2 separate regions of the Homo sapiens genome follow, and region 1 is linked to region 2. Evidence: fine-mapped expression QTL. Tissue or cell type: whole blood. Region 2 holds a variant in brackets; the other region holds the start of a gene. All regions are shown on one strand. Distances are from middle to middle.

Region 1 (8,107 bases), 150 kb before region 2:
ATACATATATATTATATATATACATACATATACGTATTATATATATATACGGGTATATATGTATATATATGATGGAATACTACTCCGCCATACAAAGGAATGAATTAATGGCATTCCCAGAAACCTGGATGGGAATTGGAGAATATTATTCTAAGTGAAGTAACTCAGGAAAGGAAAACCAAACATCATATATTCTCACTCATAAGTGGGAGCTAAGCTATGAGGATGCAAAGGCAGAAAAATGACACAATGGACTTTGGGGACTCAGGGAACGGGTGGAAAGGGGGTGAAGGATAAAAGACTACAAATTGGGTTTAGTGTATCCCAAGTTACTGCTCGGGATATGGGTGCACCAAAATCTCACAAATCACCACTGAAGAACTTACTCATGTAACCAAATGCCAACTGTTCCCCAAAAACCTATGGAAATAAAAAATTTAAAAAATAAAAAACTGAGGGGATGCTTGAGCTGGGTCCTGAAGGGTAAGCAGGAATGCACCAGGTGGGTGCAGAGGGAAGACCTTGGTGGCAGCGGTCCAGGTCCCACCAACAGGGCGAAGACTGGTGGTGGGAAAGAGTGTCTGGAGGATGACCAAGGGGGCTGAAATGGGTTGGGGTGCAAGCGGGAGGTGGTCGCTTTTTGACACAGCTTGGTCTCTGAGAGTTCGCCTTGGGAGGCTTTTGAGGGGAGGGTAAAGGTGCTGGTGGTGGGGTTAGGTCAGATCTGATTTAGCCAGTCCTAGTACCCACACCCCTACTTACTAAACTTGCATGTTTCCAGGCCCCATCCAGACCCACTGAATTGAGCGTCTTGAGGGAAACTCAGAAATATGCCTGTTCACTGAGTGAAGGTGATTTGGGGGCTGCAGCCCTGTCCCCGCTAAAGCAGCACATGGGAGAGGTGGGAGCTGGGCCTATTCAGGAGCCCCTCTGGAGGTGGGAGAATAAGACCAGACCTTTAGCCCTGTAGGTACTGAGGCTCTCATGTTGGCAGGGCTGGAAAGTCCGATCTGTTGGTCTGTCACAGGAAGCAGTGGTAGCAATGGTGGTGGTGGGCACTGGAAGCAGGGCTTCTCCTGTTCAGAGAGAGAAAGCCACAGGGGCGCCGGCGGGAGGTGGGAGCAGATGGGGGGCCAGTTTCCCAGCAGGATTGATTCCAGGTCCCCTGCTGGGCTGTACAGGGAGCGGCCTTTAACTGCCCTGTTCCTGGGCCAGGAAGAAGGAAAAGGAGCCTGGGCTCTTTCTCTCCTAGCTCCTGCCCTGCCCCCTTCCCACTCAGTACCCGGAGAGTACCTGCCCCAGGCCCGTGGAGATGCTCGGCTCAGCTGGTTGGCGATGCCCATTCCCATCCCAAGGGTAGAAATGCACAAGCTTCCTCCATTTCACTAGCTGACCCTCCTTCCTCCACAAGGCAGATGGATTGGGGGTCCATACGTTCTCCCTATAGGTAGGGAAACTAAGGCACAGAGAAGGACTTGAAAAGCTGAAGTGGGGAGACCATGCCAGACCTTTGGAGCCCAGCTGTGCTTACAGATGAGGTCCTGAGTTCCAAGTTACTGCCCCCTCTCCCCTCCACACACACTCCTCAGACTTCCTGTTGGGGGCCCAGGCTAAGACCACTTGCCCACACCACTGATAACAGTGAGTTGATTGTGAGCCTCCCGTCCCCTCCAGGGAGGGCTGGAACCTGGCTGATCAGAGGGTTCCTGCTTTGGGAAACAAAATGGGCCAGATGAACTCAGGCCCTGGGAGCAGGACCGTTGCCCCCGTCCTGAGTAGGACTTCCTGGGAGTCCCTCACCCCCAGAACCCGTGGACCTGGCTACGGAGGTTAGTCATGCCTGGAAGTGCCAAGATGTGGACAGGTGGTGCTCAGAACCCCACCTACGTGAGGAGGCACTGAACTGGGTTCTGGCAGTTTGGCCAGAGGAGGATGCATGCTAACAAGGCCCCCAGCTTGCCTGGGGACTGAGTGACTGTGTGTGCGCTCTGTCCAGGGGCTTCTTTTTAGAGACGTTCCTGCACCATGTCTGCTGTTGAAAGGAGATAGGGCAATGCCTCCAAGCTTGTCTGACCTGCAGCCTACCGGCTGCATGTGGCCCAGGATGGCTTTGAATGCTGCCCAACACAAATTCATAAACTTTCTTAAAGCATGATGAGGTTTTTTTGTGTGTGTGGTTTTTTTGTTTGTTTGTTTGTTTTAGCTCATCAGCTATGGTTAGTGTGAGTATATTTTATGTGTGGCCTGACAATTCTTCTTCTTCCAGTGTGGCCCAGGGAAGCCAAAAGATTGGGCACCCCTGGCCTAACCCAAAGGAGGCTAAGGGTGTCCTCTTGGGCACCCTGGTTTTCCATCTTCCTGTGGGATTGGCCAGTATTCAGGGAAGAGGGGACCAGGGCAGCTGATAGCTCTGGACTCCTCAGACTGAGTTTGCTGGAGTAACACCCCTCCTGCCCCTCCCCCCTGGTCAGGGAAGGCGCCTGGCTTCCAGCTGTGAGACAGGCTCCGCAGGACTAGGGACCCTCCCCGCTGGCTGAGAGCGCTAGGGAGGGGGCTTCCCCTGTGAGGTGCAAAACCCGGCCTGGATTTCTGCCCAGACGGCCCCGCCCACTCCAGGGCCCCACCTTCCCCACTGTTCTGGAGGAAGATCCCCTAGCCGGCCTCAGGCACTTGCGGTGACTCACACCCCCCACCCCTAAGTCTGAATGTTGAGAGCCCCAGGCTAAGACCACTTGCCTCTGCCACTTTCCATGTGACTGAGGCAAGACCTCCTTGCCAAGGCCTCAGTTTCCCCCTCTGTACTTCAAAGGAGGCAGCTCAGGCAGGTGTCTTAATAATTTAAACGACGAATATTGCTAAAGAGATAAGGGGCGGGGAGAGAGAGAGATCACTGTGGGCCATGGTTAGGGAAGGGTGGAGGAGCTGGGTCCTGAAAGGGTGGACTTTGGTCGGGTGGAGAAAATAGCCAAGAAGGCAGTCCCTGCTGGCAGCACAGCAAAGAGAAGTGAGAATTAGGGGGAGCAGAGGTGAGGCTGGAGGGGACTTTGGTTGGGGCAAGATTATTTGGGGTCCAAATAACAAGGATGTTTAGACGTATTGCCATTGTGCTCTGGGGAGCCACGGAAAGCTCTTGAGCTGAGGAGTGACTTGGAGAAAGTTTTTCAGCCAATGCAATAGAGGGAGTTGGTACCTTTCCTTCTGCCACCCTGAGTTTCTGGTGCCTACGGTAGGGTAGGGATTGTTCTGCCCTGCCTTCAGTGCTTTGAGTGCTTGAAACAGACACCGTAATTTTAATTACATAAAAATGATACGTGTATCAGACGGGACAACCTTTAAAACGTAAAGAAGAGGCAAGTATCCTGCATCACAGGGGAGTCTTTCAACCTGGCTGGGCCAGGGCCTGCGGAGCAGTGAGGGTCGTTTCTCAGCCCAGCGAGCCTGGGGCAGGAACGGACCCTAATTGAAGGTGACCGTCCCCAAGCATGCGTCCTACCCCGGGCTCCGGAGAGCGCACAAGCAGGTGTGCACCGTCTACCCGCGCTGGCGGGATTGGGTGCCTGGTGCGCCCTCAGGTCGACGGTCGAACCCTCGGGGGCGGGGGTGGGAGCCAGAACCCTCGGGACGACCCGTCTGGGGTCCCGGGGAAACTCCGGGCCGCCTCGCCCCGCCGATTCCAGGCCGGGATTTCTCCCGCACTGACTTTCCGGGCCGGTGCCAGCCCGGCCTCCGGGTCCCCAGCCCCCGCCGCGGGGCCGGCTGCTCGGGGAGCGGGAGGGGGCAGGAGGCGGAGGAGGAGTTTGAGCGACTTTGTGGGGCAGCCAGGGCCTCGGCGGCCGCTCGGGCGAGCGCGGGAGAACGCGTGGGCGCCCGCCGGGCTGTCCGGAGCGGCCGATGGGGCCCGTGTGAGCGCGCCCAGGCCCGGCCCGGTGCCCGGCGGGCGGCAGCATGTCCGCGGGCGGCAGCGCCAGGAAGAGCACCGGGAGGTCCTCCTACTACTACCGGCTGCTGAGGCGGCCCCGGCTGCAGCGACAGAGGAGCCGCTCCCGCAGCCGGACCCGGCCTGCCAGGGGTAGGCGCCACCCCGACCCCTGACCCCTAGACCCTCCTAAGGCCACTAAGCCACCTGATGCCCTGGGATGCTAGGGACCGGGATCCTCCTTCCAGCCATTTGCCGGGGGTTTCCTCATCCGCCCCTTCCTGAGTCTGCCGGACCCCCCATTCCCCCAGCTTCTGCTTAGTCCTCCTCTCGCCGGGGGAAGCCGAGGCTCTAGGGTCTCCTCTTAAGCCAGGGACAGGGAGAGGGGAGCCTGGAATCTTTCTCCGCATCTCAGATCAGACCTCCTACCCCACTGTGCCTCAGTTTACTCAGCAGCCGGGCAATAAAGTAACCCAGGGTGGATCTGAGCTTTCCCACACCTTGCCTTCCCAGCCCAGGCCGCGGACTTCTTTCTTCCCTTTCCAGGAACTTAACGGGCTCCCCACCTCTTGGGTGCTAGGACAAGTGGGTGGACCTCAGGGAAGGAACCGTGACCCCTCGAGCGGGTGGGCGCCAGCTCCTTTGCAAAGTTTCTCTCCATCAAGCTCAGGAGGCAGGACGAGACGGAGGGGGAGGTGCGAGCAGCATTTTCTTTTTCCAGTAACAGGATCCTCGGCTGGAAATGCGTGTGATCCCGGGGGCTGCGTTTGGGCGGGTGGTGGCCGGGACTTCCTTCCCTGGCTGAGTAGGAGGGAGGGAAGCCCCTGGGAGGAGGAGGCCTTCAAAGGGGCTCTGGGGAGGCTGGAGTCCTAGGCAGAGGTTCAGGCCCACCGAGGGTGCCCGTGGGGTGGAAGGGAGGAGAAAGACGGCGCCTTAGCAGGGACCTGGGCCGAGTTGACACCATCAGGTTATCTTGAAAGTGGGAAGCCGGGCCCTGTGCCAACAAATGCCATGCAGGGAATCTGGTAGACCAAGAGGGGCCACATTCCCACCCTGCAGGCTGCCGTTGTGTGACCTGGGCTGAGCTGCCTCTGAACTTCAGTTTTCTTGTCGGTGTGAGGGTAAATGAAGCAGGCAGGTAGTGTTCGGTTGCTTCCACCAGAATGGGGAAGACTTTTCCCACAGTCAGGTCTGAGTAGCACTGTGCAGTCCAGGGCTTCCTCAGGAAGTAGTGAGTTCCCTGTGCACAGAAGGGTTCAAGCTGAGGCTAAGTGTGTGCACAGGTGTGTGCTGGTAGTTCAGTCCTCAAGGGTCTCTCAAAGCCTGCAATCCCCCCACTCCTGCCTTTCCTGAAGTCTTAGTAAGTACAGAATTAACAGTACTAAGTTACTTAGTAAGTACAGAATTAACAGTACTAAGCCTTTAGTACTCCTTGGAGGGAGTACTAAGCCTTTAGTACTCCTTGGAGGGAGTACTAAGCCTTTAGTACTCCTTGGAGGGAGTACTAAGCCTTTAGTACTCCTTGGAGGGAGTACTAAAGACCTGGGGAAGGCTTTATCTCAGTGGTTCAGGTTTTGGTTCTTCTATCTCTGTCCTTCTATTTAATTCTGTACTTGCTAAGACCTGGAGAAAGGCTTAGTACTGTTAATTCTGTACTTACTCCCTTCCCCTGGACTTGGTCTGGGAGACCGGGAATCTGGGCTCAAGCTTTGTGACTTTGGGCAAGTCATTTCCCCTTTCTGAGCTTAGTTTTCCTGGTTGTAAAATGGACCTGCCGTATGTGGAGGATTCAGTGAAGAAACTGAGAAATGGGAGCTTTGAAAATGCCCAGTACTGTTCAGACCACCCTGGGGCCTCTCCTTCTGCACCCACCTCACGTCACCTCACCCACCCGCCCCTCCTTTGCCTCAGAAATGCCCTGTGTGACCTTTTCCTCTTCTCACCTCAGCCCAGTTCCATCCCTGACTGTAATGGGAGTCTCGCTCCTGTTCAGCTGACCTCCTGCTCAGCTGACCAGGCAGGGGATAATCAATGTGTCAGGGGCTGTCACCTGAGCCCCAGCTCCCAGACCCCACATACACAGGATCACTGCTTGTGTCCCAGCTTGAAGGAGCTCACGGCCTGCAGAGCGGGGAGGAGACTGTCTCTGAACAGAAGTTATATCTGGGGAGATCAGGGAGAGCTTCACAGAGGAGGTGACATTTGGATGGGATCTCACAAAATGGATAGGGTTTCCCTTCGCAGAGGGAGTAATTGAGTCAGATCTGGGTTCAAGTCTCAGCTGTGCACACAACTATTCTACAGCCAGTTACCTCTCCAAGCCTCAGTGACCTTGTGTGGTCAATGGGGCTAGCAGTGACAGGGTCATGTGAGGGCCAGAAGCCAGTGCCTGGGACTAAGGCTGCAGCTGAGGGTGAGCTACTGTCTTCTCTCTGGACAGAATGAACAGACTGCGCAGTCAGGGAGAAGGAAAACGGCTTGGGTATTGAGAATAGAGTTCCTCCTGGGTTTGGGGAGGGGAGTGGATTGGGAAGGGGGCTGGGTGAGTGGGTGGGGAAGAGCAGGCAACAGTAGTTTGGATTTGATAAAGGGCCTTGAACTTTGGGAGGCCAAGGCAGGAGGAATCCTTGAGCCCAGGAGTTCAAGACCAGCCTGGGCAACATAGCAAGACCCTGTCTCAATATTGTTTTTGTTTGTTTGTTTGTTTGTTTTTTTAAAAAAAGAAGGCCTGGAGTGATGAGGAGTTAGTTACAGCTGCAGCCAGGGTGTAGGGTGGAGGCTGGAGGCACCCTGTCCTCCTCCTCCTTGGTGGGAGGCAGCTAGGGCAGCCATTGCCCTCCCTCCACTAAAGCCTCAGACGCCTGACTCTACCCCAGAGCCACAACCACCACCTGAGGGCAGGGCCCCACCCAGGGAGAAACTCAGGCTGAGGAAGCCACCCTGTGGCCTTTGAGCCAGTCCCTTCTGACCTTGAACTTCAGCCTCCCCATCCACATGGGGGCTTGGTCCCATGGTGTGGTAGCATCGGACCTCAGAGGAGTGGGTGGTGCCTAGCATCTCAGCCTGGATCAGACTCTTGCCCCCACACCCTTTCTGGCCTCTGGCACTAGCAGGGAAGGAAAATGACCAAGAACTCAGGCTGTGTATTTGTTCAGAAACAGAAAAATGCAAGGAAGAGTTGGTTGCTGCCAGGTTCTGCAGGTGGCCAGGCTGGGGGAAGGGAGCAGGGCTTTGTCCCTGGTAGGGCTGTGAGTGAGGGACAGTATCTGCAGTCTCCCTAGTTTGACCAATAAGGGACTTAGGTTCTTCCCTTTTCTGGGCTTCAGTTTCCCCATCTGAAGGATGGGCAGAGTGAGACCTGCTGTGGTGGGGGGTAGAGCACGAAGCTGGAGGGTAGCTGGAGGTGGGGTAGAAACAGTGACCTTCGGAGGGTGAGGGCCATTTGCATTTTCCCACTGTGTCCCTAACTCCACTTGAAGGCTGGGCATGTCCCATGGATTTGGGGGGATCCTTTCCCCAGAAGGGTATCATCAGCAAGGTGCCTCCCCACCTAGTCACACCAAAATCAAGAAAAGTTTTGTCTCTGACCCCTGTGTTTCCCCAGGGCTGCTAGGAGAAACAGAAATTTTCCTCTAGCCCTGGATAAAGTTCTGACCCATTCATTCAGCCAGTCAGCTCCTCTTAAGCACCTACTATGTGCTGGGCTTCAGCTTGGGTGCAGGGGCACATGGAGATGAATCACATGTGCTCCCAGCCCTTGCCAAGCCCCCAGTCTGTTGGGGAGGCCAGCTTGTTGGGGTGCACTAGGGCACAAGTCTCTTTCTAGGGGACAGAGCAGTGGTTAGTGGGAGGCAGGGGCTGTAGTTCCAGCTCAGCCGCGGACTGGTTGCATGACTGGGCACATCATAGGGCCTCAGTTTCCCCATCTGTCGAGGGGGGTTAATCTTGCTCTCCTGCCTCTTGGAATGCCTATACCCATAGCCATGAGGGGTTTTGATTATGTTGTTCATGTTTTCATCTGAGTTTTTCTAGGGGTCCAGCCACCTGCCAGGCCCTGGCTGGGAGCTGGGGGTTTTGCAGATGTTTTTCTCTTGAGATGGTCAGGTCCTCCTCCGTGCCTGTACACACCCCTCTTGCATGCCTCTGTATCTTGCCCGCGTGGTGGGAGAGGATGGTTTCATACAACTGGTT
Region 2 (8,107 bases):
GAGGAGCACATCTGGAGGCACAAGACAGCCATCTGTCCTTCCTTGGTGATGTTAATTTTGATCACTCGATCAAGGCGTTGTCCAATTTCTTCACTGTATAATTACTGGAGTTTTTTGATCTTCTTTGCAACTAATAAGCAGTCTGTGGGGAGACACTTTGAGACCATGAAAACATTCTGTTCCTCATCAGAATGTTCCCCTAGATTTAGCAACCATGAATGATTCTTAATTGATCCCATCTTTACTAGGATAGTTGCAAAAGATGATTTTCCAACTCTAACAATCTCTCCACTTCGCCGGTTGACTCTCAGAATTCTCTCGTCAGCATAGGTCCTCCTTCTCCCCCACATATTGATAAATCTATTTACTATTGGTATAGATTCAGAAATTTCCATTTTTAAGGGTTTATATTTCATTACTTTATTATTTTGGTGCTCAAATAGTCCTAGATTTTGCCACCGGCAGCCCCTTTAAGCTGCTGACATTTCCCCCAAAAGTGCTTTTGATCATTCCTTATTTTCTGGTGTAACAAAACGTCCCAGGCTCACAATGTACCTACCCTGCCCAAGCTCTCAAATTAGTCATTTCTCCGAGAAACCCTGGGTAATGGTATTAAGAACCAAGATCTGCGAGCTAGTAGAATGGCTTTTCTTCTTGACCTTGTCAGCAGACAGAACTAGGAAATAAATACATATATGTGCATATACACATCCACGTGCACACAAAAGTGCATATACACATTCTACAAATCATGGGTTTGCATCTGTACCTCCAATTCCATGGAATCTGAAGTTTAACAGGCACCCCCGGGAAGCAAGCTCCTGCATCAGGCAAATCAGGAAGAACCTGCAAATGCTCATCAGAGGAGAAAGCAACCCACAGGAGGGAGAGGTGGGGCTGCTCCCTGCTCCCTGCACCGAGCAGGGCACCCTACAGGAATAGATGAGCCCGCTAACCTGCAACACAGGGCAATGGTGAGTCTTGCTTTGCTCCCCATCAGAGCATGTCGGAGATGCAGAACCCTCTTAATGGGTCTTAAATAAATGCTGGAGTGGTTCAAGTGATGTTTCCTCAATAAACAGGAGTGTGCTGCTAGGAGAAAGGAACGGGCTGAAAACAAGAACTTGGAAGGAAAGAATGTCATTGCTGATGGTGGACAACAGAATGTGTGTGCTGAAAAGTCAAATCAGTGATCCATTCTAGAACATCGGCTTGAAGCATCCAAGAATAAGGCAAAAGAGAAATAATTGGAAATTAAAGGGACAATAAATAAATGGGAATATCTCATTCATGGTAATAATTCAAGAAAAGCAAATAAAAATAACAAATATCTATATTTTTTGGTCCAGGAATGTTTAGGTAATAGAAACACAAAAGGAATCAACCTAAATAGAGAAAAATATATGAGATTTGTTAAAGAACATATAGGGGCTGGGGTTCCCTCTGCCACTGCATGTCACATTGCATCGCAAACTTTTTTTGGGGGTGGTGGGTATCCATCACTTCAAGCATTTCTCACTTATTTGTGTTACAAACATTCCAATTATACTCTTTTAGTTTAGGGTCTTTTGTTTTGTTTTGTTTTGTTTTGTTTTGTTTTGTTTTAAGACGGAATCCTGCTCTGTCACCCAGGAGTGCAGTGGCGCAATCTCGGTTCACTGCAGCTTTTGCCTCCCAGCTTCCAGAGATTCTTCTGCCTCAGCCTCCTGAGTAGCTAGGAGTACAGGCACATGCCACCACGCCCGGCTAATTTTAGTATTTTTAGTAGAGACAGGGTTTCACCATGTTGGCCAGGCTGATCTCGAACTCCTGACCTCAGGTGATCCATCTACCTCGGCCTCCCCAAGTGCTAGGATTACAGGTGTGAGCCACTGCACCAGGCCTAGTTATTTTTAAATGTACAAAAAGTTACTGTCAACTGTGGTCACCCTGTTACGCTATCAAATATTAGGTCTTATTCATTCTTTCTAACTATATTTTTGTACCCATTAATTATCCCCACTTGCCCCGTCCACCCTCACCCTCAACACCCTTCCCAGCCTCTGCTAATCGTCATTCTACTTTTTATCTTCATGAGTTCAACTGTTTTAACTCTTAGCTCCCACAAATGAGTGAGAACATGCAAAGTTTGTCTTTCCGTGCCTGGCTTATTTCATTTAACATAATGACCTCCAGTTCCATCAATGTTGTTGCAAATGACAGGATCTCATTCTTTTTTATGGCTGAATAGTATTCCATTGTGTGTATGTACCACATTTTCTTTATCCATTCATCTGCTGATGGGCACTTAGATTGATTCCAAATCCTGGCTATTGTGAATAGCCATGTTGCAATAAACATGGGAGGGCAGATATTGCTTTGATATACCTGTTTCCTTTCTTTTGGGTACGTACCCAGCAGTGGGATTGCTGCATCGTATGATAGTTCTACTTTTAGCTTTCTGAGGACCCTCCTTACTGTTCTCCATACTGGTTGTACTAATTTACATTCCTACCAACAGTGTATGAGGGTTCCCTTTTCTCTCCACATCCTTGCCAGCATTTGTTATTTCCTGTCTTTTGGATGAAGGCCATTTAAACTGGGGTGAGATTATATATCATTGCAGTTTTGATTTGTATTTCTCTGATGGTATTTTATTTGATTTGTAGCCATTGTAAATCGGATTACTGGTGGTATTTTCTTTGATTTGTAGCTGTTGTAAATGGGATTGCTTTCTTGATTTCTTTATGAGGCTGTTCTGTTGACATACAGAAATGCTACTTATTTTTGTATGTTGATTTTGTATCCTGCAATGTTACTGAATTTGTTTATCAGTTCTAATAGTTTTTTGAACTGCTTAGTTTTTTTCAAATATACAATCATATAATCTGTAAACAAGGATAATGTGACTTTTTCCTTTCCAGTTTGGATGCTCTTTATTTCTTTCTCTTGTCTTATTGCTCTGGCTAGGATTTCCAGTGCTATGTTGAATAACAATGGTGACAGTGGACATCCTTGTCTTGTTCCAGATCTTACAGGAAAGGCTTTCAGTTTTTCCTCATTCAGTATGATACTAGCTGTGGGTCTGTCATATATGACTTCTATTGTGTTGGAGTATGTTCCCAGTTTTTTGAGAGTTTTTATCATGAAAGGATGTTGAATTTATTAAATGATTTCTCAGCATCAATTGAAATGATTATATGGTTTTTGTCCTTCATTCTGAAGATACAATATATTACATTGATTTACATATGTTGAACCATCCTTATATTCCTGGGATTGTAAATGTAGATTTATTTATGCTCTCTGTTATTAGGCTGTGGGGCTCAAATTTTATTCAACCTAGTATAATTATCACCTAACATGATGCTTGGCCTGTGGTAAGCTCAATAAAGGAAAGGCCATATTTCTTAACCACAGAGCAATGAAAGTGGGAATTAATAACAAGAGCTTACCTGCTGCTTAGAAATCTCATCAACAGATGAATGGATAAGGAAAATATGGTGTGTGTATATATATATACACACACACACACACATATATACATATACATATATACAATGGAACACCATTCGGCCATAAAAAAATGAAATCCTATAATTTTTGGCAACACAGATGAACCTGGAGGAAGTTACATTAAGTGAAATAAACCAGGCACAGAAAGACAAATAGTAGTAATGTGTGTTCTCACTCATATGTGGAAGCTAAATAAATTGATATCATAGAGATAGAAAGTTGAATAGTGGTAACCAGAGCCTGGGCAGGGGAGGAGGAAGGGAGGATAGGGAGAGGATGGTTGACAAATACAAAATTACAGCTAGATAGGAGGAATGAGTTCTAGTGCTCACTGTAGGGTGACTGGATGTCATGGATGGAACTGGAGGTCATTATG[C/T]TAGATGAAATAAGCCAGGCACGGAAAGACAAACTTTGCATGTTCTCACTCATTTGTGGGAGCTAAGAGTTAAAACAGTTGAACTCATGAAGATAAAAAGTAGAATGACGGTTACCAGAGGCTGGGAAGGGTGTTGAGGGTGAGGGTGGACGGGGCAAGTGGGGATAATTAATGGGTACAAAAATATAGTTAGAAAGAATGAATAAGGCCTAATATTTGATAGCATAACAGGGTGACCACAGTCGACAGTAATTTATATAGTTAACAAGTATTTATTCTATATTTTCAAATAGCTAGAAGAGAGGATTTTGTGTGCTCCCAACACAAAGAAATGATAAACGTTGGAGATGATGGCTGTGTAAATTTCCCTGATTTGATTATTACATTATACACCTGTGGAAATATCAGACTGTATAAATATTATTAATTATTGTGTCAATTAGAAATAAAGAGAAAAGATGAGAGGCCAAAAGTAGATTGAATTATATATAAAATTGTAATAGAATAAAATAAGCATAAAAAGCTTTGCATTGAAAAAAGCTTACCTGCTGCTTGGAAATTCAAAATGCATGTAGAAATGTGTGTGGATGTATGTGCATGTGTATGAGTATATGTGTGTGTGTGGGTGTTTATGTGTGTGGATGTGTGTGTGTGGATTTGTGTGTATATACATATGAGTGTATGTGTGTACATGTGTGAGGGGGGATGTGTGTGTGGATGTGTATATGTGGATGTGTGAGGGTTTCTGTGTGTGGGGATGTGTGTGCATATGTGGATGCGCATGTGCTGTATGTGTGTGTGCTTGTGTGTGGGTGTTTGTGTGGATGTGTGTATATGTGTATGTGTGTGCTCTTTGTGTGTGTGGGTGTGTGGATATCAGTGTCCATGTGGATTGTGTGTGTGTGTGGATGTGTATGTGGATGTGTGTGTTTGTGTGTGTAGGTGTACTTGTGTGTGGGTGTTTAGGTGTGTGTGTGCTCTGTGTGTGTGGGGGTATATGTGTATGAATGAATTGTGGATGTGTGTGAGAGTGTGTGTATATGTGGATGTGTGTGCTTGTGTGTGTGCTTGTGTGTGGGTGTTTGTGTGGATGTGTGTATATGTGGATGTGTGTGTGTGTGCTTTGTGTGTGTATGTTTGTATGGGTATGTGGATGTGGATATGTGTATAAATGTATAGGTGGATGTGTGTGAGGGTGTGTGTGTGGATGTGTGTGAGGGTGTGTGTGTGGATGTGTGTATATGTGTATGTGTGTACTCTTTGTGTGTATGCTTGTGTGTGGGTGTGTGGATGTGAGTGTACGTGTGGATGTGTGTGAGGGTGTGTGTGTGGATATGTGTGTGGATGTGTGCTTGTGTGGGGGTGTTTGTGTGTGTGTATATGTGCCTGAGTGTATGTGCGGATATGTGTGAGGGGGTATGTGTATGGATGTGTGTGTGAATGTGTATCAGGTATGCTAGCTGTGATTAAGGTGTTGTGAGTTGGTGTGGGAAGGCATAGCCTCTACCTTGGGATGCGAGTGGGTATGTACGGATGTGTTTCTGCATGTGGTTCTGTCAAGGTGTGGTTTGTATACCAGCGTGGGCATCTGTCCCATTTAAGTTTGTGAAGAGGCGTGGTAGGTGTGGTGTGTCACCCGCAGTAGGCAGAAGCCAAGGCCTGTGTCTTCCAGGAGGTGCGGCAGAGTCAGCTGGCTGCAATGTGGCCAGGCTGTGGGCTTCCGGGGTTGAGTCCCTCCTGGCTGGCCCATCTATAGCCCTGCCATAGCAGGGGGCAGCGTGGTGGGGCAAGGGACAGGGGACGGGAGGACAGGGGCAGGGTGGCAGGGAGACACAGGGCAGACGACAGGGGTAGAGGCTGGAAGACAGTACAATGACTTGAGACCATCTCTGCAAATTGCACCAAAGTACAGCCCACAGCACCGGGCACCTCTCAAGCTGCAGCAGGGAGTAAGCTCAAGATCCTCCCACTCCTGTCTCCCTGGAGGTTTGAGAAAATAGTCCTGGCAAGGGGAGGGGGCAACATGTTCATTATAGGAAATAAGCAGCACAATTGCATTCTGAGAAATCCGCACAGATTTCAGAGCAGCACGGGGGCTCGCGGGCTCTGCGGGCCGTGGAATTCAATATGATATGCTTCAGCCTGTCAGCTAATGGCCTGCGGCTGGACGCCACGTGACCCAGCCTTCCTGGGGACGTTAAACGATGCTGAAAAGTGGCCCAGATTTATTTATTGGGACAGCGCTCCTGCCTGTGGGTTTGTGGGGTAATGACAAGTTATGAAAACAGGTGTGCGTGAGCAAGGGCGGAGGAGCCGGGGATTCCACACTACCCCAGAGCCTCCCTCCTGGCCCTACTGCTGAGTCTGCTGTGCACTGGGAACATGATGTCCCACCTGGGCGACTCACCTCCCCCTACCCCACCCACAGCATCAGTTTCCCCATCTGTTAAATCCATCCATCCATCCATCCATCCATCCATCCATCCATCCATCCATCCATTATTCCCTCTCACCTGTCATTCATTCATTCCCAGAACACTCCACCTTTTGTGTGCTGAGCCATGTTCTAGATGCACTGATGCAGCTTCCAACACAAATGACTAGGCTCTGCCCTCAGGGAGTTTCAATCCAGCAGGGAGGTGAGATGGCAATTGAACAGCCACTGTGAGAAGTGCTGTCAACCTGGCCTGCTTAAAACCCCTTGAGTGTGTGCCCTTCATCTCCAGGGCCATGCCAAGTTGGAGCTGCCAGCCCTCCCGCCTGGAGCCCTGCACCCACTCCCAGCCCACCCCTCCATGTCCTCGCTTGCCCCATCCAAATTGTAAGCTTGGTTACCTTTAAAAACACAAACCCAATAGTGTCATCTTCTGTGCACTCTCCAATGGCAAAGAGAAAATTTGCAACGGGGCCTGTGGGGCCTGGCTCTTCTCCTGCCAGCCTCCCCCTGCCCCAGGTCCTGGCCCTTCCCTCTGCTGGTAGTTGAGCCCTGCCTGTCCATCAGCAAGTTTCCCTGGCCCTTTGGCTCTGGGCAGGCAGGGGCCACATCTGGTTGTGCCCACACCAGGGTCCTGGGGCCCTGAGCCCCTGGGAGATCCTGATGGCAGAGGTGTTGGTGCCCACCAAGGTCCTCCTAGGATGCCCCTCTGTGAGGGGTCAGGGGCGGGCAGGGAACCTGCTCTCTGGAAAGGCCTCAATTGATAATCTGAAAAGCGCGCTAGACCTTCCAAATAAAAAGGTCTCCACTGCAGACTCGAGAGGCGTGCCATAATTACCTGGGAAGGGCAGGTCAGCTGCATTTTTTCAAATTTGCATTTTACAAAGTGTTTAATGGATATTTATATGAAAGAGCAGCCTATTGGGTAAATGCGTGACTTTAAATTAGGCTGAGGCCTTCCCCGCTCTGCTGTGCTGGCTGAGCTCGGCCATCAGTGGGGCCTTCGGTCCCTCCCTCCCTTATTCCTCCTACATGCAGGTCCTGAGGGCCCCTTCTGCGCCAGGCCCTGGCTGGGGTGGGATCCAGATATGAGGGGGCACAGCCCTTTCTGGGGTGTGCCTGGTAGAGAGTCACCATGAAGTGGCTTAAAGAGACACACCAAGGGGTGGGGGAACCACTTGCAAGAGCGGAGGTGGTGTACACCAACAAGCCCACATGGGGAGGGGCATTACGGGCAGAAGAAGGACCCGGATGCAGTGCTGGCCAGATGACAGAGCAAGGGGCATCTGGGGAGTGGCGAAAAGAGAGAGGAGCCATGAAGGAGTTCACAAGAGCTGGGCAGGGCTGCCTGGTGGGTCCCTGTAGGGGCGCAACTCAGGTTATCCGTGTGTCCCTGTCCTCTGTGCAGAGTGCAGCCTTCACGGCTGCATGTGGTGGTCCTGTTGGTTGGGGAGGGAGGTTGGTCTTGTTGGTGGGGGAGGGAGGAGGCTGGGCCCCAAATGGAAAAGACCCCCCAAACCAGGTGAGGAGTCGAGCTGAACCCCGGTGACGGGAAGCTGTTTTCTATCTGTGTGGGGGTGACACGATCAGTTTGGCATCCCAGAAAGGCTACTCTGGCAGCCTGTGGAGAACGGGCTGCAGGTGGAGAGACAGTTGGCCACCAGAAAATGGCCCATGTAGAATACATGTTTTTAAAAACGATGGCAAAAGGCTAATTCTTTTCATCTGCAAAGATGCTACAAATCAACAAGAAAAGGACCAGTAGAAGAATGGGTGAAGAAAGAGGCTCAACTGCATTCATA

Evidence for each region. PIP is the estimated chance that this variant, and not a neighbour inherited with it, causes the effect.
Region 1: it holds the start of DAB2IP, and the variant in region 2 is fine-mapped to the expression of DAB2IP in whole blood (INTERVAL, PIP 0.90).

What each region holds. Positions count from the first base shown.
Region 1 is chr9:121,647,831-121,655,937 of GRCh38, forward strand. DAB2IP (DAB2 interacting protein) reads left to right here and starts at 3,804. Exons shown (of 16, transcript NM_001395010.1): 1 at 3,804-4,069. The coding sequence starts at 3,946. RefSeq lists enhancers at 1,546-2,381, 6,840-7,339.
Region 2 is chr9:121,802,079-121,810,185 of GRCh38, forward strand. No RefSeq gene overlaps it. Among named protein-coding and RNA genes, the nearest start is that of DAB2IP, 150 kb to the left of the region's middle. The variant C/T (reference allele first, on the strand shown) is at 3,872.